2 separate regions of the Homo sapiens genome follow, and region 1 is linked to region 2. The links come from fine-mapping of genetic effects on gene expression. A gene starts in region 2. The other region holds a variant in brackets. All regions are shown on one strand. Distances are between the middles of the regions. Region 1 overlaps MACC1-OT1 (MACC1 3' UTR overlapping transcript 1). Region 2 holds the start of MACC1-OT1 (MACC1 3' UTR overlapping transcript 1).

Region 1 (16,365 bases), 68 kb before region 2:
ATCTGTCCATCATCCTCCTTTTTGAGGGTTAGAGTTTGGCTTAATCAGCCTCTGCCTCGTAGGAACTCTGGAATGTCCAGCGGTCCAATTAGCATAACAGAATCCAGGCCCTCTGGAATGATTGTGAAGTGAATCTTAAACCAAGATCAACAAGACTAAGAAGATGTGTCAGCAAAAGGTGGTAGAAGCCTTTGTAATAGGGCTTTACTTGAGACTTGAGTGATGCAGGTGGAGTCCTTAAGTCAGAATTCCACTCAGCAGACCTTCACATTAGAGGATCCTTGAAACCAAGCATAGGGTGAGGAGGTCAGGGATCTTCGAATCACCTTAGTGAGACTGAAGATTGGAGTCAAATGCTTCACTGTTTGTTACTTAAGCGCTTGATTTTCCTGAGGTTAACGCGATAAGGACATGAGGGTTTTATGTTTATCCTCCACAGTGCCTAGCACATACAAGCACATAGCCAGTGTTAGTGAATGTGTTCTTTTGAGCATGTAGTATGATCAGAAATTGCAGTGACAGTGGCAGAACTGACACTCTTACTCTCCCACTCCAACTGCAGAAGGAAAGAAAACGGAGAAACAAGAAACAGTAAACACATAAACTGAGAGAAAGGAAGAATTTTCCATCAGGCAAAGCAAAGTTTATTCTTAAAAAGAAACATGCATTATATCTCAAAGAACAGAGAAACAAGATAGGGTATTTAAGGGTTAATTTGTGTGAGCAAAGTGCTCTGAAACCATGGGTATGAAACCACATCAATGCAGTCTCACCATGGCTGCCTGCCGCATTGTGCAGCTGCTATTTTTAGCCAACATTCATACTGCTCTGGGTCAGAGTGGGGGACTTCTGTGCAGAGAAGAATGAATTGCTTGCAGCAAGCCAAGTTTTGAGGAGTAATTATTTGTGCTATAATGTACAGTCAGGGCCAGCTCCATGCCACACACTGAAAACTAAGTCTTCCAGGAAGTACAAATAGGCAGGTCTTCAGTGGCTGCTTATGGCTTCTAGCACTAATGATACTTGGCAGTGCTGCCAGGATGATCAAGAATTAATTGATTTGTTGTGAACTCTACCAAAGGTTAGCACCGAGTCTGATGTTATACAATGTAGATACATTTTCAAAGTACTTCATGATCATTAATTATTTTTTTTGTCTCAATGTTCCAAGGAAGTAAAAATTAGTTTTCTTTATAATTTTAATGTTATCTTTTCAACTTTATATTTATTAACCTTAGACTTTCTAGTAAGAGCAAATGCTCTTTCACAAATTTCTTGTTACAAGAGATACAGTAAGTAACAATTCAGTTTTTATTTACTAATAGCTGTTTTCTAAAGCAGGTACCAAATCTCTTTCTTTTTACTTTCCTATTACCCAAGGGTGCCTGTGCCTGACCAACACTAACTTTCTATACCTATCAGATAAATCCTAAGAGGCCAAGATATACTTCACCCCGAATATGGATCCAGTTTTAAGGAAGTCAGAGTCACAACTTCCGTTTTTCAAAGCAATAATGGATTGAGCACAGAGTCTCACGCCTGTAATCCCAATACTTTTGGAGGCCAAGGCGAGAGAATTACTTGAGATCAGGAGATCAAGACCAGCCTGGACAACATACCAAGACCCTTTCTATACAAACAACTTAAAAATTAGCCTAGTGTGGTGTTATGCATCTGTAGTCTCAGGTACCGTGGAGGCTGAGATGGGAGGATCACTTGAACTCAGGAGTTCAAGGCTGCCGTGAGCTGTGGTTGTTTTACCATACTCTAGCCTGGATGACAGAGTGAAATCCTGTCTCTAAGGATAATAATGATAATGATAATTATAATAAATCATTAACTGAACTCCCAGAAAACACTAGAAACAGTATATATTATTTGTTGAGGGTTTTTCAATTATAAAATTATTACTATTTATTATTAGGAAATCAGAAAAAATTACTACTCAATACTTGAATATATATTTCCATTTTTATGCATTTGTTTGTATTATCGCCAATTTTTTAAACTTGATTTTTTATTTGATATTTTGTGAGCTTTTCTCTGTATGTTAAACAGCCTCAGAAAACATGATGTTGGGTCTTAATTTTTAATACAGCAATATCATGATTTATTTAGCCAATCTCTTATTTTACCTAGTTTTTTATTTTTCTTTCTAATCTTTTAGCATGTATAATATTGTAATGCATATCCTCATAGTAATACATTTAAGTATACCTCTGACTTCTTTAGCATACATTTCAAAGAATAAAGCTATTGTGTCAAACATTTTTAAACTTTAATATATATTGTTTCGTTTCTAAGATCACTTCCCATTTTTTATTTAAATCTAATTCTAGACTCATCTTAAATGGTTCAAGTAATCTTAGCTTACTGACTTTAGCTTTACTTACAGTGAGAGAGGTTGATATTATAAGGCTTTAAAATTTATATAGTGAATTGTGTATATATTTTTTCACAGTAATTTCTTTTTTTGCTTTCATGCTTCTATCCTCTTTTTTAACCATTGATGTTGGGCCTAGAGGTGGGTTGCTGGACAACTAAAACCTAAGACATCAACTGTTGAGTTTTGGGACAAGACACAAGCACAGACTCTTAGTGAAAGCTTAAAGTACAGTGAAGAAATATTATTACAGGCTGGAAAAAAAAAGAAAACAAGTTATTTTGGCAAAACAACCAGCATTGTCTGCAATAACATGGGCTATATAAAGGGCACTTCAGGAACTTATGGTTTTGGCTAAGAAGTTTTCCAGTCAGAATGCTGGAAAAAGCTTCTTCTAGTGAAACAGAAGAACAGCAAGATAAGTTAAAAAAAAAAAAAAAAGAATGAAAAAGAATTTTTCAATTTTCAAGCAGAATTTACAGAAAATATGAAGGGGCCAGCACTAGTTTTTTTTTTTTCATGAATAAAACTATTCTTTTCAGACATGAAAAGACTTATTACAGTAAAAAATGGCTACAGGGCAAACATCAAAGCAAGGGCATTTCCATTAAAACTTGCCCTCAATATAAAGTTCATATCAAGTTTATGACTATAAGATCCTTTGCTGAGACCTCAGAAATACTTAAAGTTCCACACAGACCCTCTCAACTACTCAACAGGGCTTTTAAAAATCTTAAGGGGGCGGTTCCAAGATGGCCAAATAGGAGCAGCTCCAGTCTACAGCTCCCAGCGTGAGCGACGCAGAAGACGGGTTATTTCTGCATTTCCAACTTAGGTACCAGGTTCATCGCGCAGGGTCTTGTCGGACAGTGAGGGCAGGACAGTGGGGGCAGGACAGTGGGTGGAGCCCACTGAGTGTGAGCCAAAGCAGGGTGTGGCATTGCCTCCCAGGGAAGTGCAAGGGGTCAGGGAATTCCCTTTCCTAGCCAAGGGAAGCAGTGACGGACAGCACATGGAACACAGGATCACTCCCACCCTAATACTGCGCTTTTCAAAAGACAGCACACCAGGAGATTATATCCCACGCCTGGCTCAGAGGGTCCCACGCCCACAGAGCCTTGCTCATTGCTAGCACAGCAGTCTGAGATCGAACTGCAAGGTGGCAGTGAGGCTGGGAGAGGGGTGCTCCCCATTGCTGAGGCTTGAGTAGGTAAACAAAGCAGCTGGGAAGCTTGAACTGGGTGGAGCCCCCTGCAGCTCAAGGAGGCCTGCCTGCCTCCTTAGACTCCACCTCTGGGGACAGGGCATAGCTGGAAAAAAGGCAGCAGAAACCTCTACAGACTTAAATATCCCTGTATGACACCTTTGAAGAGTGTACTGGTTCTCCCAGCATAGAGTTTGAGATCTGAGAATGGACAGATTGCCTCCTCAAGTGGGTCCCTGACCCCTGAGTAGCCTAACTGGGAGGCACTCTCCAATAGGGGCAGACTGACACTTCACATGGCTGGGTACTCCTCTGAGACGAAGCTTCCAGAGGAATGATCAGGCAGCAACATTTGCTGTCCAGCAATATTCGCTGTTCTGCAGCCTCCGCTGCAGATACCCAGACAAACAGGGTCTGGAGTGGACCTCCAGCAAACTCCAACAGACCTGCAGCTGAGATTCCTGACTGTTAGAAGGAAAACTAACAAACAGAAAGGACATCCACACCAAAACCCATCTGTACGTCACCATCATCAAAGACCAAAGGTAGATAAAACCACAAAGATGGGGAAAAACAGAGCAGAAAAGCTGAAAATTCTAAAAATCAGAGTGCCTCTCCCCCTCCAAAGGAACCCAGCTCCTCACCAGCAATGGACCAAAGCTGGATGAAGAATGACTTTGACGAGTTGAGAGAAGAAGGCTTCAGATGATCAAACTTCTCCTAGCTAAAAGAGGAAGTTCGAACCCATCACAAAGAAGCTAAAAACCTTGAAAAAAGATTAGCCAAATGGCTAACTAGAATAACCAGTGTAGAAAAGCCCTTAAATGACCTGATGGAGCTGAAAACCATGGCACGAGAACTATGACATGAATGCACAAGCTTCAGTAGCTGATTAAATCAACAAGAAGAAAGGGTATCAGTGATTGAAGATCAAATGAATGAAACGAAGCGAGAAGAGAAGTTTAGAGAAAAAAGAGTAAAAAGAAATGAACAAAGCCTCCAAGAAATATGGGACTAACTGAATAGACCAAATCTACGTCTGACTGGTGTACCTGAAAGTGAAGGGGAGAATGGAACCAAGTTGGAAAACACTCTGCAGGATATTATCCAGGAGAACTTTCCCAACCTGGCAAGGCAGGCTAACATTCAAATGCAAGAAATACAGAGAACGCCACAAAGATACTCCTCGAGAAGAGCAACTCCAAGACACATAATTGTCAGATTCACCAATGTTGAAATGAAGGAAAAAATGTTAAGGGCAGCCAGAGACAAAGGTCAGGTTACCCACAAAGGGAAGCCCATCAGACTAACAGCGGATCTTTCAGCAGAAACTCTACAGGCCAGAAGAGAGTGGGGGCCAATTATTCAACATTCTTAAAGAAAAGAATTTTCAACCCAGAATTTCATATGCAGCCAAACTAAGCTTCATAAGTGAAGGAGAAATAAAATCCTTTACAGACAAGCAAATGCTGAGAGCCTTTGTCACCACCAGGCCTGCCCTACAAGAGCTCTTGAAGGAAGGACTAAACATGGAAAGGAACAACTGGTACCAGCCACTGCAAAAACATGCCAAATTGTAAAGACCATTGATGCTAGCAAGAAACTGCATCAACTAACAAGCAAAATAACCAGTTAACATCACAATGACAGGATCAAATTCACACATAACAACATTAACCTTAAATGTAAATGGGCTAAATGCTCCAATTAAAAGACACAGACTGGCAAATTGGATAAAGAGGCAAGACCTATCAGTGTGCTGTATTCAGGAGACCCATCTCACACGCAGAGACACACATAGGCTCAAAATAAAGGGATGGAGGAAGATCTACCAAGCAAATGGAAAACAAAAAAAAGGCAGGGGTTGAATCCTAGTCTCTGATAAAACAGACTTTAAACCAATAAAGATCAAAAGAGACAAAGAAGGCCATTACATAAGCGTAAAGGGATCAATTCAACAAGAAGAGCTAACTATCCTAAATATATATGCACCCAATACAGGAGCACCCAGATTCATAAAGACCTACAAAGAGACTTAGACTCCCACACAATAATAATGGGAGACTTTAACACCCCACTGTCAACATTAGACAGATCAACAAGACAGAAAGTTTACAAGGATATCCAGGAATTAAACACAGCTCTGCACCAAGCGGACCTAATAGACATCTACAGAACTCTCTACCCCAAGTCAACAGAATATACATTTTCAGAATATACATTTTTCTCAGCACCACATCACACTTATTCCAAAATTGACCACTTAGTTGGAAGTAAAGCACTCCTTAGCAAATGTAAAAGAACAGAAATTATAACAAACTGTCTCTCAGACCACAGTGCAATCAAACTAGAACTCAGGATTAAGAAATTCACTCAAAACCACTCAACTACATGGAAACTGAACAACCTGCTCCTGAACAACTACTGGGTACATAACGAAATGAAGGCAGACATAAAGATGTTCTTTGAAATGAATGAGAACAAAGACACAACATACCAGAATCTCTGGGACACATTTAAAGCAGCATGTAAAGGGAAATTTATAGCACTAAATGCCCACAAGAGAAAGCAGGAAAGATCTAAAATTGACACCCTAACATCACAATTAAAAGAACTAGAGAAGCAAGAGCAAACACGTTCAAAAGCTAGCAGAAAGCAAGAAATAACTAAGATCAGAGAAGAACTGACGGAGATAGAGACACAAAAAACCCTTCAAAAAATCAAGGAATCCAGGAGCTGGTTTTTTGAAAAGATCAACAAAATTGATAGACCACTAGCAAGACTAATAAAGAAGAAAAGAGAAGAATCAAATAGACAGAATAAAAAATGATAAAGGGGATATCACCACTGATCCCACAGAAATACAAACTACCATCAGAGAATACTATAAACACGTCTATGCAAATAAACTAGAAAATCTAGAAGAAATGGATAAATTCCTGGACACATACACCCTCACAAGACTAAACCAGGAAGAAGTTGAATCCCTGCATAGGCCAATAACAGGCTCTGAAATTGAGGCAATAATTAATAGCCTACGAACCCAAAAAAGTCCAGGAACAGATGGATTCACAGCCAAATTCTACCAGAGTTACAAAGAGGAGCTGGTACCATTCCTTCTGAAACTATTCCAATCAATAGAAAAAGATGGAATCCTCCCTAACTCATTTTATGAGGCCAGCATCATCCTGATACCAAAGCCTGGCAGAGACACAACAAAAAAAGAGGATTTTAGACCAATATCCCTGAAGAACATCGATACAAAAATCCTCAGTAAAATACTGGCAAACCAAATCCAGCAGCACATCAAAAAGCTTATCCACCATGATGAAGTGGGCTTCATTCCTGTGATGCAAGGCTGGTTCAACATATGCAAATCAATAAACATAATCCATCATATAAACAGAACCAAAGACAAAAACCACATGATTATCTCAACAGATGCAGAAAAGACCTTTGAGAAAATTCAACAGTGCTTCATGCTAAAAACTCTCCATAAATTAGGTATTGATGGGACGTATCTCAAAATAATGAGCTATTTATGACAAACCCACAGCCAATATCATAGTGAATGGGCAAAAACTGGAAGCATTCCCTTTGAAAACTGGCACAAGACAAGGATGCCCTCTCTCACCACTCCTATTCAACATAGTGTTGGAATTTCTGGCCAGGGCAATCAGGCAGGAGAAAGAAATAAAGGGTATTCAATTAGGAAAAGAGGAAATCAAATTGTTCCTGTTGGCTGATGACACGATTGTGTGTTTAGAAAACCCCCTCATCTCAGCCCAAAATCTCCTTAAACTGATAAGCAACTTCAGCAAAGTCTCAAGACACAAAATCAGTGTGCAAAAACCACAAGCATTCTTATACACCAATAACAGACAAATAGAGAGCCAAATCATGAGTGAACTCCCATTCACAA[T/C]TGCTTCAAAGAAAATAAAATACCTAGGAATCCAACTTACAAGGGATGTGAAGGACCTCTTCAAGGAGAACTACAAACCACTGCTCAATGAAATAAAAGAGTACTCAAACAAATGGAAGAACATTCCATGCTCATGGATAGGAAGAATCAATATCATGAAAATGGCCATATGGCCCAAGGTAACTTATAGATTCAGTGCCATCCCCATCAAGCTACCAATGACTTTCTTCACAGAATTGGAAAAAACTACTTTAAAGTTCATATGGAACCAAAAAAGGGCCCACATCACCAAGACAATCCTAAGCCAAAAGAATAAGGCTGCAGGCATCACGCTACCTGACTTCAAACTATACTACAAGTCTACAGTATCCTAAACAGCATGGTACTGGTACCAAAACAGAGACATAGTCCAACGGAACAGAACAGAGCCCTCAGAAATAATACCACACATCTACAACCATCTGATCTTTGACAAACCTGACAAAAACAAGAAATGGGCTAAGGAGTCCCTGTTTAATAAATGATGCTGGAAAAACTGACTAACCATATGTAGAAAGCTGAAACTGGATCCCTTCCTTACACCTTATACAAAAATTAATTCAAGATGGCTTAAAGACTTAAATGTTAGACCTAAAACCATAAAAACCCTAGAAGAAAACCTAGGCAATACCATTCAGGACATAGGCATGGACAAGGGCTTCATGTCTAAAACACCAAAAGCAATGGCAACAAAAGCCAAAATTGACAAATGAGATCTAATTAAACTAAAGAGCTTCTGCACAGCAAAAGAAACTACCATGAGAGTAAACAGGCAACCTACAGAATGGGAGACAATTTTTGCAATCTACTCATCTGACAAAGGGCTAATTTCCAGAATCTACAAAGAACTCAAATAAATTCACAAGAAAAAAACAAACAACCCCATCAAAAAGTGGGCAAAGGACATGAACAGACACTTCTCAAAAGAAGACATTTATGCAGCCAAAAAACACATGAAAAAATACTCACCATCACTGGCCATCAGAGAAATGCAAATCAAAACCACAATGAGATATCATCTCACACCAGTTAGAATGGCGATCATTAAAAAGTCAGGAAACAACAGGTGCTGGAGAGGATGTGGAGAAATAGGAACACTTTTACACTGTTGGTGGGACTGTAAACTAGTTCAACCATTGTGGAAGTCAGTGTGGCGATTCCTCAGGGATCTAGAACTAGAAATACCATTTGACCCAGACATCCCATTACTGGGTATATACCCAAAGGACTATAAATCATGCTGCTATAAAGACACATGCACACGTATGTTTATTGCAGCACTATTCACAATAGCAAAGACTTGGAACCAACCCGAATGTCCAACAATGATAGACTGGATTAAGAAAATGTGGCATATATACACCATGGAATACTATGCAGCCATAAAAAATGATGAGTTCATGTCCTTTGTAGGGACATGGATGAAATTGGAAATCATCACTCTCAGTAAACTATTGCAAGAACAAAAAACCAAACACCGCATATTCTCACTCATAGGTGGGAATTGAACAATGAGAACACATGGACACAGGAAGGGGAACATCACACTCTGGGGACTGTTGTGGGGTAGGGGGAGGGGGGAGGGATAGCATTGGGAGATATACCTAATGCTAGATGACGAGTTAGTGGGTGCAGCGCACCAGCATGGCACATGTATACATATGTAACTAACCTACACATTGTGCACATGTACCCTAAAACTTTAAGTATAATAAAAAAAAAAAAAAAAAGCAAAAAAGCAAAAAAAAAAAAAAAAAAAAATGAAGGGTTGGACAGCAAATTTTTCGGCAGCAGCTGGCCTCTTCCCCAGTTTTCTCTAGTTCGTTAAATGGCAGCACCATTTTCAAGGTATTCAGGCCCCAACTCTTAGTCATGCTTTACTCCTCCAGGTCCTGCATATCCATATTCAGTCATCAGAGTAAGTCTGCTTATCCCTACCTTCTAAATGTCTGCTGAATATGGAAACTTCTCTCCACCTTCAATGTCTTCTCCTTACATCCAAGACCTCAACATATTTCATTTAAAGGACTGAAATAGCCTTCCAACTAATCTCCCACCATCCTGGGCCCTATGCTTAAGTCACACCACATCCCTGCTCAAACATCTAATGGCTTCCATCTCATTCAGAGTAAAATCCCAATTATTTTCCACAGCCTACAAAGGCACATATGATCTCACACTTCTCTCTCTGACCCCTCCTAATCTCCCTCTTGATTAATCACTTCCAGACACATATTGCAAGCTTATTCTCACTGCAGGGCCATTGTTCCATTTGTTCCCTCTGCCTGAAAGGATATTCACCCAAATAATGGGTGCAATCACATAGCTTGCTCTGTCATTGTATTTAAATTTATTCTAAAAGATCTCTTCAGAAAAGCCTTCGGTGAACACCTTCCATAAATCTTGGTTATGGTTTTTTTTAGCATTTAACATGATGTAATATAACACTACATGTTTATTTGCTTATTTCCCTACCCCTTAACTAGTAGATTCCATGAAGACTTGTATGACACTATCCTTCTTACTATTCAGAACAGTGCCCACCGTATATTAGCTCTTCAAGAAAGTATTTGTTGAACAAACTCATTTCCAAAAACGAGAGAGCACATCATTTTCAAACACACGTGCAATATTTATGAAAATTGGCCTGATGCTGAGGCACAAAAGAAGTCTAACCAAACCACAATAATAGATCTCATACCCATCATGAAGATGCAATGTAGATGCCCACCTACAACTCTGAATGACAAAAGCCACAAAATTTATTTCTTAAAACAAATGTCTTCTCTCTATCCAAGTAGAATCTATTACAATTTTACTGCCCCACAAAAAAATGTCTAAAGGGCTCAGTATGACACTCTTTCAGGAAAGAATTATTCACTATTATTTGCCAAGCTCCTGTTCCAGAACTGGAGATCATGTTTAAAAAGCAGTGTGGGTGGTGGGGAGGGGGCGAAATTTGTCTAAATTGACTGAAATTGAGTAAGAAATATATATCTCATCTATGTATATATGTATATATATCTCATCTATGTATGTGTGTATGTGTATTGATTATCTATCTAATATAACATCAAATTTAATTTTGTAAAGTTTCTGAAGTCAGATTGAGTGAAGTTAGTGGCCCTTAAGCTGGAACTTAATTGATGGATAACATGTAACAGACATAGAGAATGTCTATGGAATGGAGAAGGGGAAGAAACAGTTTCCAAACTGAAATATTGGTACGTGCAAACCTATGGAATAAGAAAATTTTACATTTTTAGAAAAACAGCAAGCCATTCGACTTGGTGCAAATATAGACTGTACATGGTAAAATTATACCAAAGGCACATTGTGAGAGCTTTAGAAGCCAGGCTAATAAATTATAGACTTTAATAGGCAGATCATGAGGAACACCAGAAGGCTTTAAGGAGAAAGTGATGCAATTATGAATTATACTTCAGAAGATTTTATTTGGTTGGAGATATTACTGCGTTGAGAACACGGCCTGTAGAGTTTGAGGAACACAAATGGGCAAGTCTCTCGTTAGACTCTCTCACTGAGCACTGTAGTGCTTGGATGGATTACTCTATCTCAACTTAACTTTATTTATGAGGGTTAGAGTTGACCACTATAGAGGTGGGCAAAGGTAAGGCTGCATAGATGTTATGGGCAGAGGCGTTGGTCACCAAAGTATTCTCTAATCCCCAGAAGAAAAAAAATGTTTCTTATAAAGCTTTTTTGTCTAAAGCACATTGCGAGACTCTGATAAAGATCCGTGCCATGCATTCCTTTCCCTACCTACGTGGCAAAGAGAAAAAGTGCAAAGTCTCTTGTGATTTTATTAATTTCCCACCCATTAAAAAAGCTAGAGTGTAGGGAATCTTAGTTTGAATAAATAGCTCCTGGCTTCCATCATTGAGAATAAAGTAATCTCTGTTTTCACCCTTGAATGAGAGGTCACTAAGTGAGATGAATAATGTTCTTCAGTTACTGAATGATGCAGGATATGCTGAGTAATGTATTTATGTGCAATTTGCACAACTCTTTAATTAGTTTTAAATATCAAGCTTATTCTAGCTGACATCTAAGCTTTAATATTATCTTATTCAAGCCAAGTATGTGGTTTTGAATTTGCTTTGCAAATGGTATGTTCTTCAGGGTTGCTTATTTAGCAATATTCTGATCTCAGTTGCTACATGATCTGTCTTAAGAATTCTAAGCAGATAATTCTATTTAGCCACAGGGATAAATACAGATTTCTAAAGAAATCTGTCAAGAAAATGATTGCAGAACATTGTATTTATCTGGCTTTTAAAAATTTCTAAATACCATTTCTGGGTTATGATGGTAGATTACATAAATATGCATAATTTAGCTTTCTTCATAAATGTAAGCTATTGCAAAAAGATTTCATAAAAAAGCAAAAACTCACACGGATGAGATAAACAGCAGATGGACCCATGGTGACCATGGCCACGGTATATGTCAGAGGCTGGGATGGAAGCCAGTGGGAGACAAAATCCAGCTCTTTGCTTTGCCCTCATCAAGTAAGACATGCGTCCCCCTGTGGAGAACCCTTTTTCCTAATTCACACAGGGATAACTAGCTTAGCATACCCAAGAAGGCCAAAGTTAAAGTTGGCAGTAGCATAAACAAAAAACTGACAATTTATATTTTAAGAAGTACAGCGAGAGCAGCAGGAAGGGTGAGAGATGGTAAAGACTCCAAGGATAGAGTGAACACTGGGAAGCTGGATCCCTCTCCCATGCCACATCTCCAAGAAATCCCCCGCCCCCACCATCCCCAGCACAAGTCTGCAGGTTTAGTCTCTGGCCCAGACAGAAAATGTCTTTGTACTGTGGCTCCAGGAAGATTTTGGAGAATACATTACTGAAATTGGGAGATTAAGTCACCATTAACATTTGAAACACTGAATATGAAGCCACTCCCAGCCCTTCTCTTTCAGTTGGCTGCCAGAATTCTGGAACTCACAACCCTAAGCAATCTCACTGTTTCAAGATGTTTATCTTAAGGGTTCCTCAAAAATAGCCCAAACAAACCAAAAGAGAATTTTAAATTATACAGAAATTGCAATCAACTTTTTGTCCCCCACTCTTATCCTTGAGCAGAATACCATTTTTAACTGTATTAAATTGACATAAAATCATATGTATTTATTGTGTACAATATGATCTTTGAAGTTTAGTCACGAGTCATTTAAGGACAGAGAAATTCATGGTTAGGTGATTTTGTCATTGAATAATCATAGTATGTACTTACACAAACCAAGGTGGTAGAGCCAGGCTATGTGGTAGAGTCTATTGCTCCTAGGCTACAAAGCTGTACAGCATGTTATTGTACTGAATGTTATAGGCAACTGTAACACAATAGTAATTATTTGTGTATCTAAACATATTTAAACATAGACGAGTACTGTAGAACTATTACATTGTAATCTTATGGAAAAAACATTATGCATATAGTCCATTGTTGACTGAAGTGTTATGTGGCACACAACTGTATATATATGCATTGTGGAATGGTTCAATCCAGCTAATAAAGAAATTTGTTACTTCATATGGTTATTTTTAGTTATATAGTTTTTTTTGTCAAGAACACTTAATATCCACCCTCAGCATTTTTCAAGAATACAGTACATCACCATTAACTATATTCAACATGCTATTCAATAGATCTCTTGAACTTATCCCTTCTATTTGAAAGAAATGCCTTTGATGTGGAAATACAGTGCTATGGCAATCAAAAAGGGTCAAAAACACATTGGAAGAAACAGACTATGGAGGACAGTAAAGATTCATATCATTTCTATATGCAGAGATCTGAGAAGACATTGCTTAAATTGCTTCAGGTTAAACAAAATAGACAAATTAGAATTCTGGGGAATTAAAAAAATATGTCAGTAGAAACAAAAAGTAAATAGGAGATGGATAGCTGGAAAATGAAACTGAAGAAATCTTCCCAGAAAGTACAGCAAAAAGACAAATAAATGGTGAATAAGAAAAGAAATAAGAAAAACTGTTTTACATGCAGAATAAATTGTTATACGGGCACCACACCCACTTACAGGAACAACATCACCCACATTGGAAACTATCATCTAATCACATGCATGAGGCTCCTTCTTCCATGACCAGATTATCACCTCCCAGAGAGCATGGATCCCATCTCTCTGATTCACTGCTCTGTCCCCACATATTAGCTTGTAGCTGTTGGTACACAGTGAACACTTTCTAAAATTTTACTGAAAATTATTGAGTAAATTACATAAACATTTATCTAGTAAAAGAGTATATTTTCCTTTGATTTATGCAGAAATGGTAGGTGACTCAACATCAGCAGCTGCAGTTAATTAAATAATTAGCGCTTTCCTTATTTAATGTCTCCGGTGAGATCATGGCAATGTAGTAGCAAAAATAAACACCAACCAACTTCGCAGAATTTTATTCCACTACTTGTACAGCTGTCAAATTGCTCTGTGATGAATGCATTCAGGATTGAGCACCATGGAAATGCCACACTGACCAGTCTCTGATGTGAGAGTGGTCATGTCATGAATGAGGCCTAGAAGCTCCTTTGATTACACTAAGTCCACACTTAATAAAGTCGATAGGTTATTGGAAACTATGACTTTAAGTTAAACAACAGATAAAGAAACATTTTTTTCTCATCAACGTTATAGTGAAATGGTGTTGAGGGAAACAACATTATTCAAGGACTTGCTGCTAGTGGGAGGAATGGTGGACTGTATCAGACATCTTTTGTTCCTCACATCAAAATCCTTCAACTCAGTGTTTTGTTCCAGCAATCTCTAGTCACATGCAAGCAAGTGTAACTTCATGCTGTCTCTCCTCAGCTGTGCTAGAAGTTGCTCACTTTCTGCCCCAGAGTTTCTCTGCCACCAGCATGTCAGATGTGTGCAAGAACTTGTTCTGCCATTCTGACACAGACACCAATCAGAGACTGCAAGGAAATTTATACTCTGTGAAGCAACTTGACTGACTGTGAATGAGAGTTAGTGAATATTCAAATGAATAGCCTATTCAATGAATAGAGCTATTCAAATGAATAGTACTTTATCCCTTTGGCAGACAATTTGGATGTGTCTTATACACAGGTCCTTAGAAGGTCTACAGTGTGATCAGTTCACAGTTGTCCACAGTGGTGACCAGCTCAATATCATGCTCTTGGGTTGGCTTTCCCACTTTCCCTGTTGAACTCTTTTCATTCATCCCCTCCAGTTCTTGGGAATCTCTTAGCAAAAGTAACTACATACAAACCCTTCTCTCCAGCTATGCTTTTGGTTGGTTGGGGTGGGGGCGGTGCTGGGCGGCGCTGGGCGGGGCAGGAATAAGTTATTAGGACCCCCTGACATGTAAAACAACCTTCCATAAACCTAAATCTTTCCAGATAATTCTAGTTTTTTCAAAGGAAAAATATGCCCTTTGTAAATAAATTCAAAATAAAGAGAGAGTCTACTACCTGACTTCTCTTTAACAATACTACAGATGATCTTCATAGAAAAACATAGTTTTATTTTGCAGGTATATTATTAGCAGTAGGGCCCAGAGTATTTATTGGAATGTTTTGACATTTTAATAGTACTTTTTCTAACTCATCTTTTTCTAACCTTTTTTTTTAGTTTAATACTTATTATAATCATTTTATTCTCATTGTATTTTAAAAGTTAAATATTAGAGAAATAATATAGTTGAAAGGATTACCTAAAATTTAGCAGATAACTAACTTAAACTACACAGAAATAGTAAAGAGAAAGGAGATCGTTGCAATAATTAAGAATGCTAAGAATTAAAAAGTATTTTCATGTAATACACTACTCATCTAATAGGATACTGCCTATTATATGAAATTGTAGACTTTTAATTTATGTCATACACACAAAGTCCCTTTTATGTTTTTATGTCTGAAAAATAAATGGCAATGATTTTGCTATTCTTAAATATTCTACAATAAAACAAGAGAACCATGACCAAAAGTAATAAGCTCCCACAGGACATTTTTCTTACTCTAAATTGTAAATGGAGTGAACATTAAAAATATTGTTTCTATGTAAGTGTTAAAGAAAAAGAAAAACATCCTTTTAATTGTGAATGATTAAAATGATAAAAGGTGAAAGAAGTACAATATAATCACATCACATACATTCAATTTGATTTTTCCACATTATACAATCCAAACTCACTACAAAAACAGTATGAATATGATACTACCCTGAATCTGATTATAGCAGGCAGGGTTCTGCGATAGCACCCAAGATTCCATCCGCTGGTGTATATTCCCTGTATAACACTCCCCATCTCATCCCTTGACTGTAGGAAGCACAGTGAACATAATGGAATTCACTCTGATGATTAGCAAGTTATATGGCAAATGGATCATGGTATACTAAAAAGATGAAAACATTTGCAGATAAAATAAGGTCTCTAATCAATTGCTTTGAGATAATCAAAAGGGAAAATATCCCGGGTAGGTCTGGCCTAAACAAGTGAGACTTTAAAAGGGACTGTGCCTTCTTGTGGGAAGAAATATGAAGAATGAAAAGATTTTCTGGCTGACCCTGAAGAGCAAATAACTTCCATGTTGGGAGTGGATGGGACTATGTAGCAGTGACCTGACGCAGTCACTAGTTGCTGAGAACAGTCCCCAGGCAATAGCTAGCAAGAAAGTGAGGACCTAAACACACATCTGCAAGGAAGCCAATTCTGTCAATAACCTGAATCAGCTTGGAATAGGATTCTGAACTTCAAAGGATAAACAGCCTACCTAATACTTTGATTGTTTTGTGAGATTGTG
Region 2 (16,365 bases):
GCCATGGTTGTTTTTCACCAGCAGGTCATGACACTCGATTCTAACCTTACAATTTTCACAATCAAGCATTCTGGGAACTCCTTCTCTGTCCCTCTCTTCCCCTCAGCTTCTTTCTAGCAGTAGGTGAAGTGCATCTACTACATTATAGGTCCTGCTTGAGAGTAATTGAAGTCACAGGAGATCTGCCTCTGGTCCTCTTAGGCCAGGTGCCCCTGTGGCCTTGATGGGGTTGTAGGTGGTTTTGTCATGTCATCAGCAATTCGTAAAGTGGTATGTAGAGAGCAGATATTGCCAGTGAAGTTCCATTTACTTATCATTTGATTTATTGCAGAAGTTTATAGAAAAGCAGGCCCATTGCCAGTCTCATACTAAGGACTCAGAAAACTAGCTTCTTGAATTGCACTTGAGGGAGAAAGATTTCCTGAGGCAGCAAATAGTGCTGAGGCTAAGTGATCCTCTCGCCTCAGCTTCCTGAGTAGCTAGGACCACGGATGTGCACCACCATGCTCAACAATTTTTTTTTAATTGTATTTTTTGTAGAGATGGGGTTTTGCTGTTGCCCAGGCTGGTCCCAAACTTCTGGCCTCAAGCGATCCTCCTACCTTGGCCTCCCAAGTGCTAGGAATACAGGCATGAGCCACAGTGTTTGGCCTGGTCTTTTTACAAATGGAAAACACAGTATCTTTCCTTCTTTCTCTTTACCTGATCTATAAAAAGATACAAATTAACTGTTGTTTGCTTATCTCCTGGATGGATTTAATGCTATCTAAGACTGTTTTGTAAAACACCAAAGAAACTTCAGCTAGAGCAAACGCAGCAGCCCTACATCAAAATTGTCATTTATCGGTCTTTCGAGAGCTGGTGTCAGAAAACCTATTTTAAACTGGATTAGGCACAAAGAATTTGTCTCTCACAACTAAAAACTCCAGGAGGCAGTTTCAGGCATTCCAGTATCCAAGGCTTGAAGAGTGTGATCAAACTTGTGTTTTGTTCTTGTTTTGTTAGTTCCCCTACCTATATTTGATTATATTAGTTTCATCCCTGGGCTCCACAAAGCTGCCCAGCAGCTCTGGGCTTTCCCTTTATGGTAACAACATGGCTGCAGCAGCTCCATCCTCACCTCTCCTCATGTTCCAGTTTCAAGGTGACATGGCCTTGTAATTTCCCCTGGGCTAAACTAAATAGTGTTTCCCAGGGCTTTCTTCACTGAGTGTCTCTGAGTGTTGCTGATTAGAGTTGACCACAGAGAAATCTATGTAAGATTTGTAAGGTCACATTGGAGCAGGAGCACTGTTACTCTTGGAAGGTGGAGGTAGGTCAGGCGATCATTGCACCACTGCACTCCAGCTTGGGTGAGACAAGGAGACCTTGTCTAAAAAATAAAATAAAATAAAATAAAAATAAAAATAAAAATAAAAATTCCAACACAAAGAGAGGAAGACAAAGTTTCCATTGTCATGAATAGGCAGCCTTCTTTCTTTACACCGTAATTGAACCCTTCCCTAGCTCCACTTCACCCCTTTCTTGATTTTTCGTCATGATATAAAACGTCTGAGTGAGCATTGAGTATGTATTTCCTGGGAGTAAACCCAGAGAATGGGTTTTTCTACTCTGATAAGAAAGGGCGCAGTAGCTGGTTCTATTAGGTCATTTAATCTAATATGTGTAAGATCAGCATTACATCAGACTTGCCAATTCCAGATTCTGCTTTAAAGAGTGAGTTTGGTAGAACCAGTTTAGGTAAAAACAATAACTTAATCATAACTAAAGATTTGATTTTTCAATGACTCACTCTATTTTCATGAACAAGTTAAATGCCCCAGTAAATTCCATGTATTGAGTTTAAGTGAGCATATAAACATTAGGGACATTTAAAATCTACTTCCAGTCACAAAAGGGCAGAGTCTTGATATCTTTAAGAACAGAGAAAAGGAAGCCATAGATTCTTCCAATCACCCAAAGAAAAACAATTAACAAGGAAATGATGGCAGAGGATAAAACGTGATACGTCAATCTCAAAGTGAGATGGTTCAGCTTGCCACCTCTTCTCAGTCACCATCTCTTTAAATGTGGAATATGATCCTTAGAAAGAACATCCGATCACCTTATTAACACTTTCTAATTCTACAGTGAAAGCAGGGCATATAGATAGCTGTATTGATCACATTGATTAAAAACATTTTTTTCAATGGGAAAAAATACATTTAACAAGAAATTCAACAAATAACACACTAGGGAAAACAAGGCTTTTTCCGAAGATATTTTACAGAAACAAATGCAATGTTACATATATTTTGTAAAATTATCTTAAAATTATACTGAATACATGTCCCAAATTATTGTTAACCTATTTTTATTCAAATATGTTTATGCTTTAAATGAAACACAGAGATTTTAATTAGTTTCACAGTCAAAATTATTTTTGTAGGCCTTTATTAACTCATGAAAAGTTCACTTGCTATAAATAGAGCCTTAACATAAAGTGATTTTCGGTTCTTTAGCACAATTTTTAAAACAATTTCTCCAACAGAATTAAGTGAAATCTCATTTATCTTAAAGCAAATTAGAGGACTTATAAAAAATCTTTCCATTTCTATAGAGATGAAGGAAATTTTAATACAGTGGTTCTCAAACTGGGGTCCCTGGACCAGAAACATCTGCATCACCTGGGAAGTGATTAGAAATGCAAGTGATCAGGCCAGACCCTCTGAATGAGAAATTCTGGTGGTCGAGCCCAGCAGTCTGTTTCACCAAGCCCCCGCCAGATCGTTTTGCTGCTGCTGAAGTTGAAGAACCACTGCCGTAATGATTGCCTGGTCTAAGGCCTTGACAATGAGACTGGAGCATGTTTGGCAGCGTGCTTTGAGAAGCTCCTAGTGAAACCAATGCTGACCTCCTAAGTCAGTACTCAAGCACCATACTGTAGTTTGTTTTAAACAGCTGGAAGTCACCAATTGTTCAAAAACAGTGTGTATTACATAATCAATTTCAAAAGATTATGTAAAGAATAAATGAGGATATTTGTAAGGTGCTTAGTGTGCTTATGTATGTGTGCTAAATGTGCTATGCCTTACACATAGAGGACACAATTTTAATGTGGATAATTGGTATTCAAATTATTACTCTTAAATCACATTCTCTTTTCTCAAAGCAAAAAGAATAAAGAAAAACGCAATACATTCTAGTCATTGAACATTTATAGACATTTAAACCCAAGGGGAACACTAGAGGTCATTTGGTTCAAGTTCCTTGTTTTACTGGTGAGAAAACTGAAGACCAGAGAGGCCAAGTGACAGGTCCACAGTCTCATAGGGAGTAAGGGAGTAATGGACAAAGATTAGAAACCGCAGCTCTCAACTCTTTGACTAGTGTCTTGTAGAGGAAGCCTTTCATGCTGTACTCATTATGACAACAACAATATTTTCTATGAAATTTTCTCCTTTGGCCTTACTAATTATTATCCAGTGCTAACCTCTCTGTCTCTACTCCCTCACATATAAACTGACACTATTATTCAAAATTACAAAACTATTTATTAGGGTTAAAACTTTCTAGATGTACATAAATAGAAAATCAATGTAAAATATACATGCAAAAGATACACATTTCTACAATGTTCAGTGAAATCTTGATGCTGAACATCAGATACATTTCAGATGCTGTATGTGTACAAATTCAACTTTCCTATGTATATGTGGTCACTTTATTTTGTGCTGTGGACCAGTAAATACATATGCAAGAAACAAACCTTCGACATGCCATTTGATTCTGAAAAAATGTCTTTGGATTATCCCACCAATCATATTGATGTTCTTTAGAACTTCACTCTCACTAAACCATACAGCAGCATGTGGGAGAAAAGTTCATACAGAAGGAGGAGGGACTTACTTCTCCTCCTTGCGATTATTATTGCGATTAAGGATTATTATTAATTCTTAAAGATTAAGATTATTATTAATTATTAATTGTAATTATTAATTCTTAAAGATTATTAATTATAATATTAAATTATATTATTAATTCTTAAAGATTATTAATTATAATATTAAATTATAATTATTAATTCTTAAAGATTATGAATTATAATATTAAATTATAATTAATTCTTAAAGATTAAGATTATTATTGTGAATAAGAAGAAAAATGATCTAATTTAATGTAAAAACCCTCCAGTGACATCATTGTTCATTATTCTCTTTTTCTTTTATATTACCTCAAAAATTCCTTAGATATAAACAATTACAGAAAACATAACAATAGCACAATATAAAAATTCAAGTCCTTCAACTTCCAGTTATAGCATTGTACAAATTTGAGTGTATGCATGTTCTCTTTTGCATGTTCACATTACACATTCAAGGCTGATTAGTAGCAGCAGTGTTTCTCAGCCCAATGCCATCCATTGATTTAGCATTCTATTCCTTCCAGAAACCTAGTCATCCCCAAACTGAGAACTTTATATAGTATGTTCTACATTACAGGCCATGAAAATGTGCTGTATCCATTTATTAGTATGAACAGTTAATGACACACTATTGAATGCTTCTACTTAATTGTTTCATATAAAGGCTTTAACACAAAGGAGGTAGAGGATCTGTGGCTTATACAGAAAAATTATTATGTTTCAAGCTGGGCACTTAATTCAAATCTTATCCTAAGTCACGCATCATTAGACAAAAAGCCTGAGGAACTGAAAGAACCATGTAAACATTTTCTGCTTTCAAAATGCTTAAAGAAGTTTTAGATTAATGGGATTTGATACTTTTAATGATGTCAAAGATGGTATATAAGTGCCTTATTATTTCATTGACTTACTGCCAAATATTGAAGGCAATTCATGATTACTAATTTAATCTTTTCTGATTATGAAAATCCATTATAGCAAGAAAAAATATAAAGTTCAGAAAAGTAGAAACTATTTATTTAAAAATTAGAATATATTTATACAAACAGAATGTTTGGACATGGGCTTAAAATTCCTCTGGAAGGCTGGGAGCAGTGGCTCATGCCTGTAATCCTAGCACTCTGGGAGGCCGAGGCAGGTGGATGACCTGAGGTCAGGAGTTCCAGACCAGTCTGGCCAAAATGGTAAAACCTTGTCTCCACTAAAAATACAAAAATTACCCGGACAAGGTGGTGCATGCCTGTAATCCCAGCTACTTGGGAGGCGGAGGCAGAAGGATCTTTTGAACCCAGGAGGTGGAGGTTGCAGTGAGTCAAGATTGAAACACCGCACTCCAGTCTGGGCAACAGAGCCAGACTCTGGCTCAAAAAAAAAAAAAAAAAAAAAAAAAAAAAATTTCCCCTGGAAGGATTTGTTACAAGATTATAAAATATATTTGTGTGTATTAATATTAGAACCATTGTTTCATCCTCAAATTACAGAGATCTTGTTTTTCATTTTTTTAAACTCTTATTATTCTCAATCACAATCATAATACATGATGCAATGTAAACCTTAAATTATTTATTTAATCTTACTACACTAATCAGCTAACAAGATCTCTGTCTTCTTAGATCTTGGAGCCTGGAAAAACCCAGTTATTAATCCCCACTATCCCTTCCCAAAATTCTCTGGTTAGCTGACATGTTAATAAGATTCCAAGAATGTTCTAAAGAAAGCAAAATCACCACAAAAAAGGACTGTGTTCTGAAAGTAAAAACTGTGCTTTTTTTTCCTTCTCTCATAATTTATTTTTAATTAAAATAAATTCTGTCCTTGAATGTGTATACATAATTATTTGGTCAGGCTGTGTTCCCTTATAATCAAATATAAATACTGAAAGCCGTACAGATTATTCCTTTTTTTTTTTTTGAGACAGCCTGTCACCCAGGCTGGAGTGCAGTGGCATGAACTCGGCTCACTGCAAGCTCCGCCTCCCGGGTTCACGCCATTCTCCTGCCTCAGCCTCCTGAGTAGCTGGGACTACAGGCGCCTGCCACCACGCCCGGCTAATTTTTTGTATTTTTAGTAGAGACGGGGTTTCACCGCGTTAGCCAGGATGGTCTCGATCTCCTGACCTAGTGATCTGCCCGCCTCGGCCTCCCAAAGTGCTGGGATTTCAGGCATGAGCCATCGCGCCCGGCCAAGATTATTCTTAAACGCCAATTTGAATTACCATTGCCAGCATACCAAATATCCCAGGGTGGGTATATTAAAAGCCCTAAAAAGATTCTGCTTTTACTTTTTAGCCAAATGGACATCTTTTATTCAGGTTCCCAAAACAAAATCCTTCTTTGGCTTACCCACATTTCTTTGAGGCTGTGTGTTTTCTTTCTAAATTCTAGCAGCCTTAATGGCCCTAATGTGGCTTCTTCTTGCTCCATCCTCATCTCAACCTTGAATCTTTTATCCTTTCACTCCTTCACCCCTGCTATCTGCACCTATTCAGCTCCCACCCATCTAAGAGCTTCAGTGCTTTGTGGGATCACCGCTTACACCCCACCACACCAGGACAATGCCTACTCTTCCTTGAGGTTCATTATTTCTTTCCAAGAACAAATTTCCCTGACCCACCCCCACTTCCAGTTTCACATGATGGCATCTCTACGTTTATATCTCGTAGCATCACAGCCTCTCCATTGCAACTGTTAGTATGCATGCCATTTTCTATTTAACGGTGTCATTTTTTAAAATTATCTATTACTTAGCACTACTAAAGTCAGAGTTCATGCTGGTTTTTTCCCATTAGCCTCAAGCATCTATATGCCTGCCAAAAAATAGACACATATACTCTACCTATTGACTGAATGACAATAAATGAATGTCTGTCCAAATACACACATAAACACTGGCAGGCAACCAGAGGATTGAACAGAGGAGTAAGCAAAATACATCTCTTTGTGAACTTTGTCAGCCATTAGCATTTATACTGACCCAGGGTCCTATACAATTTTTGTCCTATATAATCAATTAGGCTGTGCTTTATAAAACACTGTGGTACACACACACACACACACACACACACACACACACACATGTGTTTGCATGAGCATGCCAACATAAAGATATCAGTGTTTTCGGTGGTTAAGACCTCTCTACTCAACAGGGTAATCAAGTTAATCAAGTTTCTGGTGGTGGTGGTTTTTAATAACTCGTATTATTAAAAATCTCCAAGAGCTAAAGAACTATTTTACATTACAATCCTGCAGAAAAAGTCCCAAATTAGGCAGGATTAGAGAGGTCCCAAGATGCTGAAGGGAGCTGATGAAAACACTAGGTCCATGCATGCAGACAACAGATTTCTGATAAGTCATATTTTCCTTCTGTCAGTCTTTCAAGAGACGATGAAAAAGAGTAGCAAGTCTCACTTAAAATGAAACGGCAACTGTTTCCCTGTAAGTCTTAACACGCATTTTGTTTTTACTATTCTGTTATGCAGTATGATTTTTTAAAAAGAAATAGAAACAGGTTTTTCAAGCAGAAAACCTACTTTGTACTGGCTATGTAGCCTCAGACGTTCTCTCCACTTCTGAGTTTCTCCCCATGAAAAATGGGGGTGATGCTGGTGAACCCCACTGATGAACTGAAGAGGTCAGGTGTGGAAAGCGGGCAGCCGTGACTGGCCACAGGGTGTGTGCTTGCTTCCCCTCTTTCTAGCTGCCTCCTGGGAACACTGCCTTGATCATGTTGATAGTCTCTAGTTTACCCAGATATCTGTGTGATGTAATTATTCAAACAGCTTTGACTTAGTAAATTTAAAATAACACTGAAAGAGAGAGAGGGCACTTTTCTTTTTTCTTTCCTTTCTAAGAACAAAGCAGCCTAATACTTGTATTTGAAACATACACAAAAATACATATTTGAGGATAAAACCCATCTTGGTTATCAGTTAGGCTGTGCTTTCATCAGGAAAAAAAAACTGGTTTTGAGCATGAAGAAAATTAATATAATGCTTTTCTGAGATTCTTTCTTTCCTACACACACACACACACACACACAGACACACACACACAGACACACACACACAGACACACAGAGACACACACAGACACACACAGACACACACACACACACACCATTACCTCATTTTCCCTCCCATCAAAAACACACGCTTTGTTTCTATACTTCCTCAGAAGTGGAGAATGCAGTTACTCTCAAAACCTCCAAAGAATTTACTAGTATTAAAACTCCAGTTAATTCTCTCCAGTGTTTAGTCACAGGGTTTTTCATTCTGTCCAAAGCTGACTGAAGGTCTTGTAACACATCTCTGTAGTTATTTCCATAGTGAGCACTCCAGGTATACAGAAAATCATAGGCAGGTTTCCACATCATCTATAAAGAAAAAAAATAGATTGGAGTAGTGTGGAAGTAGAAAGGAGAGGAAAATCGTTTTTAAAAAAAAGATGTAAAAAGCCTCTTAAGATTTAAGATAAAACGGAATACCAATTACACATGGACTTATTTGATGTCATAGAAAATATGGTTTAATAACTATCAGCTTCCTGTTATATCCCTGTGTTTTTAAAACTAGAGATTTTAAAAATAATAACTACAAATAGGGCCTTTTTTCCCTTGATCCATCATCTATACATTGCTGTTGCTTTCATGTGAATATAAAATTCCTTGCACAATTTTTTGATGGTAACAAATGTTATTGAGATAGGCTTTTTACTATTTGAGAGACTTTTAGAGTTAATTATTATTATTATACCTATCTGTGGTGAGTTTTATGACACCAAATAATGTATCAGGAGAGAAATAGTATATTTAACATTTTAAATTATTTTACTCGAGCAAGTCTATAAACAAGCAAAAATCTAGCTTCTTGATCAAGTCAAGATGAAAGCAAAAATATAATTCTCTAATTTAAAATATTTATTTCATGATATATTTTATCATCGAAAGAAAAACCAATACTCAGTGCTGCTTCTTTTTGCTTTTCCTAAGCACCTACCCATACCAATGATGTCATTGTTTCCATAGAAATAAATGTACGTCAAAGAGAAACTTCACATACAAGCATGCATGTAATGGTAACCAAGGCAACCAGGCTAGAGGGAGAATAGAGACAAAGGCAGACCAAATAAGACAAATTGTAGAATACACACACACACGCACACACACACACACGTCACACACACAGCACCTTAAAATGAATTTTCTCTAGGGAAACAACAAAATGAACCCTGCACTTGTAAGTGGAATATTTGAAATATAAACTTTATTATTTGCTTATTTTGGGGGGTTCACTGAACTAATTTGGTTGTGATTCTATCACTTGCAAAATGTAGGAACATAGACTCCGAGCTAAATATCATGCAGAACTGCCCTTTTAAAGTAGAACCTCTATCACAGTTCAGTAATATCACATGAACTAAAGCCTTGGCATATAATTTTCACCATCCTCCAATATCCTCATATAGTCTAATTTTAAAGTTAAAAGAATTAAAGACCTAAATAGGGAGTTCCATTATGTATTTGATTCAATCCACATAAAAGGCTCTAAGGACAATTTAATGTTATTTGTCCAAACTGGCATTCCTGGGAAGCCATGAACAGCCATTTCCTCATCTCTCTCGACAAAGCTTAATTTTGCAAGGTAGAGAATAAAAGACAATTATCAAAGTTATACCATATCAGCATATGGTGCAGCAACAAAAATCATCTCAGATTTTTGTATATAAGTTTTACCCTCACCAACCGGATTAATAATTTTATCTTCTATGTCTGATGGAATGTGAATGAGGCATCTGCTCATCTATATTTCTGAAGATTTACATTGAAATCAAACTTCTCAAAGTACAATTGCCACTAGTTTCTCAACAATGGAATATCAGTTGAGACATAGTAATGGAACCTTTTTTGTCAGACTCAATCTTGGTTGTCGCTGCTCAGTTGCAAAGAATCACTAAACAAATAGATTATTCTGTAGTGGGTATATTCTGTCTGTAAAATCTCTGAGACGTGGACACTACCTTCTATTCACTTAAAAGTCCCTGATGCTCAACGAACTGGTTCAAATTGTCACGTATTTTTTAAAATAATGGTGTTTATAGCTAAAGGCTTCTAAGACTGTTCTAAGTCTGCTAGTGATTGAGTCTGATAAATGATGTATTTGAAGATATTTTATGATAAACAGCAACTTAAAACATTTCTGTAAAAAGGGGATGGCATAGTAGATTAGTGTAAAGCATCGCAGAAAACAGACATCTCAAGAATTATAAAAGGGTAATTTTGGGGTTGTCCACTACACTACAGATTCAAATACTTTTACAGTCAAAAGCAGCCAATATGGCCCCACCTACTTTCATGGGAAGAAAAGCTCTGTATCTATGGCCTATCTTGCGGCAGGACTGTGAATTGCTATGTGTAGAGGAGCCCTTAGGCACACTCAGTCAAGAAGCAGCTTCTCCATGCTGTTGAGGGCAGGAAATACCACAGGTGATGCAAAAAATAGAAACTACAGATTCAGGAAAGGTCCGACGACACATCTACTCATGCACTTACGCAGAGCACCACATAACGTCCTCACATTTGGCAATTTGTTGTTGTTGTTGTTGCTTTGCTTTGTTTTGTTTTGGAGACGGAGTCTGGCTCTGTCGCCCAGGCTGGAGTGCAGTGGTGTGATTTCAGCTCACTGCAACCTCCCACTCCCTGGTTCAAGCAATTCTCCTGCCTCAGCCTCCCAAGTAGCTGGAATTACAGGCACGCGCCACCACGCCCAGCTAATTTTTTTGTATTTTTAGTAGAGACAGGGTTTCACCACCTTGGCCAGGATGGTCTTGATCTCCTGACCTCATGATCCGCCCGCCTCGGACTCGCAAAGTGCTGGGATTACAGGCATGAGCCACCACGCCCAGCCCTACATTTGGCAATTTGTACTAACAACAGAGTAGTGTCGATAGCTCTTGCAAATCAGAGAAATTTGGGTACAATACTGAGTCCTAGGCCCTAATTAAGATTTTTGAAGGTGTAAAGACTTCCCAAGAGTCCCCTGAATTTGTCTGAAATGCAAGGGGGAATATTGCCCTAAACCGATTTGAGACTCCCTGGAGTGTAAGCTGTAATCTGGCTAGAAATGGGTAAAAGAGCATTGGGCTGAAAACAATAGGGCGTTGGTAAACTTTACGATTTACACTAAAATATGAGCATACTCTGTATTCCATTTTTCTTCCTCATTGCAGCAAATTAAACCTGAATATTCCTTTGGTGCAAAAATTCATCTTCTGTGTACAAAATCATTGGTAGCTCTCAACAAAGATGATAGAGAAACACTTTTATAGCATAAATACAATGAAAATATTCAACATTATCATTGTTCATTAACTATTTTGCTTATCAAATCAAGGTTTATTATCTTCCACTACAATAAATTTTGTTACAGTAAGAAAATGATGAATATTGCATGACTCTTGCTTTTAGAAGCTTATAGCGTAGGAAGGAGATAGACACCTGCACAAACACTGGCACAGGGGATGAAATAGGATGTGATAATTACAGAAAAACTCAAAAATTACTTGCATATTTTAAATCAGTGTGAGAAAAAATGATTGTTGTATTCACTGATGCTATAATGGAAAGAAAGATAGGTTTGGGTGGCAGAGTCCTGTGTCTACATCTGAGTTCTGTTGCCTATTTGATAGGTTAATTTGATAAACTAATCAAGTTATTTCAGCTTGGAATTTTTTTAATCTATAAAATATGGATAATCATTCCCAAATTTTGTGTTCAAAATACCTCATGATGTATCTGGCATATAGTTTGCATTTATACTTCTTAATAGGATAGAGAAGAAAGTACTTATTTTTTTGGCAGGGGCAAGCTAAAGAGCCTATTTTCAGCCCTACTGAATATCAAGCAAAAGGGAGGGTATCTGATAAAAAATTACAGTTGGAATGAGGAGATGACCTTGAGAGGACAGACAAGGGTTTAGCATCACTTGTGCTACAGGGATGGCAAAACACATGAGAGCAGAAGAAAACACCAAGGAAGAGAAAAAAGGGATGCAAAATTTAATTCTCAACTAAGTCAATTATTAGTGGATACAAGAGAGAAATAGACGCAATAAAAGGATGGGGAGAAGCTGGAGTCAAAGAAAAAGAAAGTGAATCACATGCTTCATCTTGCAAAAGCCAAGAAGTATAATAACATCCCAAAAAGGACATGCATTGGCTTGCTGGAGCCAGCTCACACAAGCTCCCTGGATATCCTCCCAACTCCATGTTCCACAACTCCAGTGACACCACAATGGTAGGTTAAAATGATGTACGATCGGAATATTTACACTAAGAACATTAACAAAAGCTATAAGTTTAGATTTTTTCCCTCTGCAGGGTTGGTTGGTAAACATATGCCAGTGTAACACTGAGGACTTCCCTTTTCTGTTACCTCCACTGCTACCTGTAACATCAACAATGTGGGAATATAAAGAAAAACTTGGCAAATCCAGGATTTTGGAAATTAGCAGGACTTTGGTAACTTGGAGAAGGCAGTTTCAAGAGAATAGTCGGGGGCATACGACAGGTACAAACAGGTATCAAAGAAATGGAAGACACCAAACAAATGGGTCACATCTGAAATTTGAGTGTCAAAGGAAGAGAGACAGAACCAGAACAAGCAGCAGTAGAAAATAGAGGTATTTTTAAAAGAAAAACAAATTTAAAAAGTAATATCCTACCAGAACAAGCAGCAGTAGAAAATAGAGGTATTTTAAAAAGAAAAAAAATTTTTAAAGTAATATTCTATGATGGCAAGGGGATTTGGATTTGAATCTTAGCTTTGCCATATGGAGAACTTAAGGTTAATGAGGCTTAAAGAGGTAGCATATATAAAGCACCCAAGAAGAAAGGTTAACTTCCTTTGGCAGAAACATAAATACAAAAGGATGTTAAAATCATTATGGAGTTAGGGCACAAAATTAGAGGGGCAAGTATCATGAGAAATCGAGAAGGAATGAGAACAAAAGCATATGTCAAGACTTATGTACTTAATACACTGATAAAAAATATTAAATTGGGGGAACTATGTTTTCCCTTAATAAGTAAATCTCTAGGCTGGGGGTGGTGGCTCACGCAAGTAATCCCAGCACTTCTTTGGGAGGCTGAGGTGGGTGGATCATGAGGTCAGGAGTTCGAGACCAGCCTGGCCATTATGGTGAAGCCCTGTATCTATTAAAAATACAAAAATTAGTGAGGCGTGGTGGCACGCGCCTGTAGTCCCAGCTGCTTGGGAGGCTGAGGCAGGAGAATCGCTTGAACCCAGGTGGCAGAGGTTGCAGTGAGGCAAGATCATGCCACTGCACTCCAGCCTGGATCTCAAAAAGAAAAAAAAAAAAAAAAAGTAAATCTCTATTTGAGCTTTGCCTTAAAAAAACCTGATTAATCGTCCAGGTCTCTTCAATACAGTAAATAGGCTAATCAGTTGTTTAATTGTCCTTTGTGGAATAGATATATGAACATTTGGACACAAGTTCTAAAGGTACTTTTATTTTTTCTGCATTTTTTATCTCATTTCATTCTGGTTTTCTTAAACAGTAAATACATTTTATCCAAGGCAGAGACATAAGAGGTAATTTGTGTACATTAATTAACAATAAACTCTATGAAATTTGCCCTAAAATATCTACCCAGTAAGGTCACAAAAAATTCTAAATTTTTTAATAAATTACAAAGAAAATGAAGTCATCTTTTCTGGAAATGTTTGAAGGAATAAAATGCGTAGAATAAATAATTTTCTTTCCGGACTGACTAACATTTAATCCTCCGAAGGCTAGAAAGGAGTTGCAGACAGCCAAGATCTCTTCCAGATTTATGTTGTCTTGTATCTATTCTGTGTTTTAAAAATAGTTGTTCCTCTCTTGCTCAATGTTATGATTAGAAAAGATATGCAGAAACTCTACACTTGTGTTTTGAAAAATCTAAAGGAAAGCCCTCTCAGGAGGGCTTGTTTTTTAGTTGTTAAATTATTCTTAACCACAAAAATTATCTCAGCCTTCTCATTTCTATCACAAATATTTAATACATAGGCTGCATTCTTATGCCTCTATTCTTAGATTTTTAATGGTAACTTCATGATGTTGCAGTTTCATTCTTGAATAGGAAGCGTGAGGCTGATAAAAGCACAAAGTTGTTAATTTTCATCTATGTGCTTTTCTTTTTATAAAAAAGGGCAGCAGCGTGAGTAAGTATTTAACATACAAAGTTGAGCAGTTTTCCAAAGTTCAAGCTTTTGTGTGGAAGAAGTGTGTCTTAGGTTATCTTTTCAGTGTTATAGGACAAAATAAAAAGTAATGGAGCAATAAAAAGTAATAAGTGGGATGCCAAAAGAAATGAAATAGGAATAAAGGCAAAACATACATAGTTTTCCAAATTTAGAGTGCTCATTCCCAGAAGCCAATAAGACTCATTAGAAAATGCACTAGAAAATGAAATGCCACATGAGTAGAAGAAATTCAGATTTCAGCATAGCACTGTATGTCTTTTTTTAGCTTATAAAATATGAATAGCATAAAGAATGCAATTGGTTTTAACTACTTTTGGATAATTACATTTTGTCACATTAAAGGATTAGTAATCCACTTACTTCTCCTATAAACTTACAGGAACAACACTTCATTTTCAGTACCATTAGCTGAAGAAGTATTAAGGCAAGGTTGCCTTCTTAATGATTATTTCATGTGTTCTATCCTCAGTACATCATTTACAATATTCAGGTAAGCTTTAACACTTAACATTTAACATTACCTATAATTAGTAAGTACATAAATATTGTTGAAGGTAAGATTGCTGTTGTCTTCAGAAGAGAAGGGAGGCTAACATATCTGGGGGCCCCTATGTCCTCACGAGGGAGATGCTGCTTGGTTAAAACTTGACACAAGATTCCATTGAAAAAGTCTATTTGAGGACAACCAGCTAAATTTGGGTGAGAATAACCACTTGGAACTTCAGGGGTTAAGCATGAGCCAGAGGAAGACAGAGGACCTATTCCTTGCTAGTGCATCTGCTTAAATAGTCTAACATTATAGGAAAACCTGCTGGTTAAGCCATCTTACCAATTCCTAGTTGGGAGGATTCCTCATTGCCTCCTCATCATCACTGCCACCCATGCCCCTGCCAAAAACATATATTCATGGAGACAACTGACACCAATGTTTAAAGAAATTGGGCTCCTTCAATTTAATTTTTCAATGTAAACATTAAAACAAATGAAAAAATACAGTGTCAAGAGCTCTGGATTTAGCGGCACACATCTTGGTTTAAATCTAGACTCTTGGTTTAGTAGCTCCAGGATCTTAGGTAAGCTATCACCTTTCTTTAGGCCCTTGCTTTCCCCTTCTGGCAAATGAGAAAAAAGGTGTACCCAATGCTATAAAAGAATTGCTAAGTATACAAAGGAATGGATGTAAATGTTTTTGGCACACACCAAGTGCTCAATTAATGCTAATTATAGTTGAGTTTAAAGTTAAGAAACAAAATCACAGTCAACTATCCAGGAAAAGAACCCAGGTAACCTTGCTATAAATCTAGGGCCATTTTACTAAAGTATTGCCACAACTTTATTTCATTATTAAGCAGTTCTAACAAATGCTGATTTTGGTCTTACACATAGCTGGATTTTGGTTTTCTGAAATTCCTTATTGTTTATGTTCCCTAGTACTAAAGCTTGAAAAAGAAAACCTAAAGTCAAAATTAAATAGTGTCTTTAAATCCATTTTGAATTTTCTTAATAATGTTTAACTTAATATGCATGTTATTTCTATTTGATTTTCAGTGTATAATATAGAATTAAGTCAAAGATCATAGGAATACAATGTGTTACCCCAGAAATTTCACTGTGCTATCTTTGTTTTCTTTCCTACCTCATTCCTCCCAAAATGGAGTATCTTTTTGAAATTAAAGTTTGTAACAAGTATAGAATTGTACAAAGTAGACATGGTAATCTAAATTGTACAAAGTAGACAATGGTAATCTAAATAACATCACTGTGCCAAATCTCTAGTTCAAACAATGGAGATTTGAGATATCATTCTATACATTTTACAACTGGTATGTGAATTTCCATATAATACTTTTCCCTTCTCTAAGAAATTATAAATATATTTCTCATTTCAAAAGAACAGCAAACAAAAGAATTAAGTACCAAGGCTAGAACTGAACCAGGCCCTGATACAGACCTTGATAATTCAACATCCCTGTAAGCAGAATCCAGAAGTTGCCATGTAAGCCAGAAAACCATACAGCCCAAGGACATTTCTTTTAACTTTTGCGAGAGATAATTTCCAAGGAAAATTAAATGTTGTTAAGCCCATAAGAAATAAGCTGATCAGCCAAGACTTTATCTCATTTTTTTCCATGCATTGCTATTCTGCCAGTTTCTCAGATGAGAAACCTTGAAATAACTGCTAACTTTTTCCTTACATTCTT

What was found. PIP is the estimated chance that this variant, and not a neighbour inherited with it, causes the effect.
Region 1: its variant is fine-mapped to the expression of MACC1-OT1 in minor salivary gland (GTEx, PIP 0.94).

Annotation. Positions count from the first base shown.
Region 1 is chr7:20,064,677-20,081,041 of GRCh38, forward strand. The region is part of intron 1 of MACC1-OT1 (MACC1 3' UTR overlapping transcript 1); the gene reads right to left. Among named protein-coding and RNA genes, the nearest start is that of MACC1-OT1, 68 kb to the right of the region's middle. The variant T/C (reference allele first, on the strand shown) is at 7,510.
Region 2 is chr7:20,132,884-20,149,248 of GRCh38, forward strand. It overlaps MACC1-OT1 (MACC1 3' UTR overlapping transcript 1), which reads right to left and starts at 7,543. Exons shown (of 6, transcript NR_110114.1): 1 at 7,434-7,543. MACC1 (MET transcriptional regulator MACC1) reads right to left here. Exons shown (of 7, transcript NM_182762.4): 7 at 1,772-8,275. The coding sequence ends at 8,063. It overlaps MACC1-AS1 (MACC1 antisense RNA 1), which reads left to right and starts at 9,033. Exons shown (of 4, transcript NR_046756.1): 1 at 9,033-9,137; 2 at 14,544-14,654.